Linked DNA regions of Homo sapiens: region 2 is linked to region 1. Evidence: fine-mapped expression QTL. A gene starts in region 1. The other region holds a variant in brackets. All regions are shown on one strand. Distances are from middle to middle.

Region 1 (2,908 bases):
TACCCTCCTCTGATACACAAGAGGAAAACCCATTAAAGGGTATTGTACAACTCCAGGCATCCTACTCTCTCTAATCCACTTCTCTTATTTCAACAATACCCAAAATATTGCCGCCGGGCTCTCAATGAGGGTCAATTCAAAAGACATCCTGTGGCCACAGCAGTGAGCTAGCTTCCACCTGCAGGGCGGGCCCAGTAATGCTGGTGTCTGAGAAATGACAAGGAAGGGCCATTTACCGTCCCTCTCCATCAGAGAGAGGTAGCAGTGGCAGCTCGTTTGCTGGAATAAAGGATGCATAACTGGCCACATAAGCTGCTTCCACACTCCTCCTAGCAACTCTTCATGCCATGCATAATATCACAGAGCATAAAATTGCAGAGCCCAGCAATGAGGCCTCCAACCACAGCCTCAGGGATGGCGGCATGGTTCTACCACCTCCCAACCACATGGCTCCATCCACAAGAGAAATGGGTGAGAAGCCTTTAAGATAGATGTACATTGTTTATAGCAGAAACTCTGGATTTTTCCTCTCCTTAGATCTTCACCAAACATAACTTAATTCCCGCTGAATTAAGCGCACCTGAACACAACCTTATCTTCCCTGCTGCTTAACACAGGCTACCAGCCGCTTACCACAGTAACAATCTTCCAGCAAAACAATGCTGGAGTGCGCGCTGTGAGAGTTAGGCTACTCAAATGTTACGCTCCCCGCACCGCCGGCGAGGGGACAAATGACTACTCTGATGGATTCGGTAGCCCAAGGAAATTATCGCTTTCGGAGGGATGGCGGCAGAGCAGGTCGGGCATGCTGCATTTGCCTGAGTTGGACCGCGTGTGAGCGAGCTTACGCTCCCCGCGGGCCAGGCCCAGCTCCCGTGCTTTCTGACAGGTGAAGTTGAGCATCCTTATCAAACCCTCGGGAAGAACAACGATCCCATTCCACATCAACGTGACTGGAAATCTCAATTTAAGAATTGGATGCACCGGTCGGTCCACCTGGGGCTTGTCCAGCTTTCCATCTTACTTCGCGCCTCTGATGTGTCAGGCTTTTTGCACAGATAGCTCACATATTTAACCCTCAAAACACCGTTTCCTGAAGCGATGCTCAACCAGGAAAACTTGCCCCAAACTGCATGATCATCTTCCGTGGCTTCTCTTCCCGAATCCCTGCTCTGTCCACCAGGTGCGGCCCCGCCCCGCATCCGCACACACCTTTTCCGCCGCTGCCCTGAGCGCAGCGACAAGGGCCCCCACACCTCCGCGGCCCGCAATGCTCCGGGGCCAAGCCGAGGCAGGGAGGCGCTCCCGCAGCTCCTGACTTTACAACCCGCGCGCGTGTGCACCGAGCCGCGGGCACACCGCGAACACACACACACACACACACACTCGTGCGCTCCCGCCCTCCGCCCGGCCCGGGCTCTCCGAACTTACCTCCGAGGCGCCCCGGGCGCAGGGCCCGCCCTTCTCTGCGGGTCTCCAGCGGCTGTTCGGCAGTGGTCCGCACGGCCTCCGATGCCGCGCCTCCGGTAGGCTCCAGAGTCAGCTGGTCACTGTCACCCGGCAGCCCGGATTCCGCGCCCAGGGTTGCACCCCGCGGATGGAGCGACTTTCGCCTCCGCCGCCCGAGTCCAGGTCTGCGCTCACACGCGCGGCGCTCACACGCGCGGCGCCCACCTGGCTGCAGTCCCGGCCAGGGCCAGCGCGCCGCGGCTGAAGGGGGCGCTCGGACTCCTCTGGGGCGGCGCGCAGCCGGGACAGTCTCGCATGACGCCCGCGCTCCAGCGGCCCCGGGACGCGGCCTCACCCTCAACCCCTGGCGGTCTCAGCCTCGGTCTTTGTGTCTCGGTCGGCGTCGCCACGTCATGGGCTTGCAGGCTGGGAGCAGCGCGGGCCGGGAACGCGGCTGGGGAGAGCTGGGCTGGGCTTCTCCACCGCCGCCCGCCCGGGGCGCTCAAGCTGGCGGGGCGCACGGGCAGCAACTGAGCGCACCCTGGGGGACCGAGGGGGCGGTCCCGGGGAGGGGCGCGGCGTCGCGCCAAGGGGGTGCCCTGCCAGAGGCTGCGGCGGAGGAAAGTGGGAGTCAGAGCGCCGCCGGAGCCCCGGGAAGGCGGTGTCCGTTCGGTCCCAGGTCGCGGCTGCAGCGCCGAGGGGAAAGCGAGCGGAAGCTGCGCGCTGGAGGGAGCCCACCACCCGGAGCCACCCGCGGGGTTCGCGTCTCCCCACTCCCCTATGCTGAAGGTGACTGCGGCCCCCAGTGGCAAGCAGGGGCGAAGAGTGTCCTCGGCTCTCCTCTTCCCAGGGAGCACTCGGGGCTTCGGACTCTGCAGTGGTTTGCAAGGCCAGGGCCAAGTGGTCACTTCACTCACTGATTTCTTCTTTTGGCTGGTGTCGGCTTAATTGGGATCCAGATTGGAAAGACTGTCACGTGACCACCCCTCCCTGTTTCTCTCCCCCCCCACACACACACACATACTCACTCATTCACACACCCCCAAACCCCACGAAACTGGGATGGGTTTCCAAAAGCTTACTGGATACATGGATCAGAAATGGAGGCCTTCCGTGTCACCCTGTGTGCTGGAGTGGAGCCGAAACACAGCAGCTGCCTCTGGTGGCCCCATCTAGACAGATCCTGTCCCTGTGGCTGGGGAAGCTCACGTTAACAGCACTTTGCATCCCCAAGACAAGAACAACACAAACAAAAAGGGTGAGGGAGGGAATCATAGTTTCGGGGCCATGGAATCTCATTTCAAAAGGAAAGCAACACCCCCACCCCCACCACCCCACCTCCTTCCCTGCCACCGAGTTACCGAACAGAGCTGCTAAGGAGCATACCTCCCCAGGGACAGAGCCCTCTCGGGGGCTGTGGCGGCTTTTCCCTGGCCAGCTTCTCCCTGACATTTGCTAC
Region 2 (2,908 bases), 74 kb after region 1:
AGGCATGTATAATAATAAGGGCTTTACTTGTATTTACTCACTTATTCCTTTTGCTTGGTGTGATCAGCTGATTGTTAACTTTTTGATACTATACGTGCTTTCTCTCCATTTTCTGAGACCTTGATCTCTCAATCTCTTCAGCTGTCAGAAACAACTCCCAAATTCTATACCATTTATTTGTGGAGCTGTTTATTCCTCTTTTTTTCCCCTTACCCTTAAAAAGGTCATGCCCTGGACAGGGAGACTCACCTCTCAGCTGATTTTTCTATATAAGGAGCCTTCCCCTTCAAATTGGCCGGGTATAGTGGCTCATGCCTGTAATCCCAGCACTTTGGGAGGCTGAGGTGGGCAGATCACTTGAGGTCAGGAGTTCGAGACTTGGTCAAAATGGTGAAACCCTGTCTCTACTAAAAATACAAAAATTTGCCAGGCATGGTGTGGGTGCCTGTAATCCCAGCTACTTGGGAGGCTGAGGCAGGAGAATGGCTTGAACCTGGGAGGCGGAGGTTGCAGTGAGCTGAGATTGCGCCACTGCACTCCAGCCTGGGCAATAGAGCAAGACTCCGTCTCAAAAAAAAAAAAAAAAAAAACTGAGCCTTCTCCTTCAAATAAACTGTACCTCTCCTCTGGTATGCAAATAAGCACACAGTCCACTTTTGTTTTGAGTTGCAATTTTGTTCCTTCCAGCTACATAAGCCTCCTCACTTCCCTTGTCTTCCCCCGTGGGCAGAATCCAATTTGTCTGAGTGCCTCTCCTGGGATGGCCAGAGCTGTACTCCTGATAGATGAGGTGCTGCTGCACTCTCTCTTGTTCCAGCCACTGCACTCCCAGTAGATGCAGGTTTGGCATGCAAAAAGCCCCTTCCCATCCCCACTCCCTTTCTTAGTTATCCTCAGACTGATCCAGACTGGAGGAATCAGGAACCCTGTCCAGGCCACGGCTCTCCTGTCCCTGCTATCCACCACCCACTTATCTGAGAAGTTCACAGCAAACTTTTCCTTCAAGGAGCAAATAGGCCCAGCCATTTCACCCCAGGGAAAGCTGCATGGAAGCTGCCTGCTTTCTATGAAATTTCGTTTTAAGCATCAGGCAAATAAGAAAATGTTGGGGTCTTAGAAAGTATTTTTTCTTTGCTGAATATCCACTGATGGAAATACTGTTAACTGGAAGGCAGTGGTCAGAGGTCCTAGGGTGGACCCGTGATCTCCTTCGGGATGGGCCTGAGGGATGCTTCTGTTAACCTCCTAATCTTGAAGTTGGATCCTACAGATGGCTGTCACAAGAGACAGACTCCACCCCCACCATCCCCAGCTTCCATCCCAGCCAGGTACCAGTCACTCTCAACCTGCTCAGTCTAGACTGCAATCCACAGCCAAACATAATTTTCTTCTGTCAGCAGCATCCCTGAACCATTTGCCTAGACACACACAGTAGGGTTGTTGTCTGAAACCTCAGAAATAAAAAGTGAGCCATTTAAAGTTTTATGCTTTGAAGTGGCAAAATGATGTCACACTTGAAGGTGCTGGCCTCAAGTCCTGACCTTGCAGCTGTCTGCTTCTCCTGGCTGTTCACAGGGTTGTGAGACAGCAGGCCCCCAGAAAATTCCTCGGACACAGCCTCCTCCCAGCCTGGCTCTGCTCACTG[C/T]GCTATCCAGTGCCTTGGGCCTCTGATGGAAGACAACGAGTAGGACTGACCTCCATACTCTGGTCTTCCCCTCATGACATAAACAGGCATGCTTCAGTGGCCCATCCCGTTAGGGTCAACTTGCTGATTGCTGATTTATCTGATAAATGAACGTATGCTCACAGAGAAGCCGAGACGGGTACATTAATAGTGTGTTACATCTCCCAAGAAGGATGTTGATACAGAATTTTCAAACAGAGCAATTGGAGACTTAGACTCACAAGACCAAAGAATCCTAGGGTATGATGGCATGCAGGGACTTAAACAATGGTATAAACCAATGCATTAACTTCCCAGATGGGAAAGCTGAGGCTCAGAAAAGGGAAGTGAGTTTTTCAGTCCTTTGCAACTACTAAGAAGTACAGCCATGCTTCCTGATTTCCCAGCCAGTGTTCTTCCAACTGCCTTTGCAATCAACTGAAATCAGAGTGGACTCAATACACAGAGCGGAGGGCCGCCAGCTCCCTCTACAGTGGCCCAGACTCCAAATGCCCCCAGCACGGCAGTCCTCCCAGTAGGAGATGAGCCTACATTCACAGACAATAGGACCCCAAGGAGAAGGAGGTATAACACTAGTTCAAGAAGACGTGTTCTGCTTTAAAAAAAAAAAAAGTTTAAATTCTAAAATTAATAATGTAATAATGTGCTTGCTTTTTTTTTTTTTTTTTTTTTGAGGCAGGGTGGAGTGCAGTGGCACAATCACAGTTCACTGCAGCCTCAACCTCCCAGGCTTAAGCAATCCTACTGCCTCAGCGTCTCAAGTAGCTAGGACCACAGGCATGCACTGCCATGCTTGGCAATTTTTTTTTTTTCTGTAGAAATGGGAGTCTCACTATGTGGCCCAGGCTGGTCTTGAATTCCTGGGATCAAGCGATCCTCCCACCTCAGTTTCCCAAAATGCCAGGATTATACACACGAGCCACCATGCCCAGCCGTGTGCTTGTTTTTTTAAAATATGAAAGAGTATAACATAGAAAATGGATCCTCTTCTCCAGAAGTATTAGCTATTAAGCTGGTGTATCTTTTCAAATGCTCATACACATATAAACATATGCATATTTGTATATGTTTATATGTTTGTTCATAACTGTGTTTATGTGTATATTCTTTTTATTTTAAATGGGTTCATACTACACATTCTGTTTTTCAGTTTGCTTTCCCTTGTTTCCCGGAATAGATCAAGCACACTTGTCTATGTCTGCACATGTAAATGTCCCTCTTATT

What was found. PIP is the estimated chance that this variant, and not a neighbour inherited with it, causes the effect.
Region 2: its variant is fine-mapped to the expression of MINAR1 in blood mononuclear cells (TOPMed, PIP 0.91).

The regions. Positions count from the first base shown.
Region 1 is chr15:79,431,064-79,433,971 of GRCh38, reverse strand. MINAR1 (membrane integral NOTCH2 associated receptor 1) reads right to left here and starts at 1,636. Exons shown (of 4, transcript NM_015206.3): 1 at 1,432-1,636.
Region 2 is chr15:79,356,913-79,359,820 of GRCh38, reverse strand. It overlaps a transcript of TMED3 not described here. Among named protein-coding and RNA genes, the nearest start is that of TMED3, 47 kb to the right of the region's middle. The variant C/T (reference allele first, on the strand shown) is at 1,646.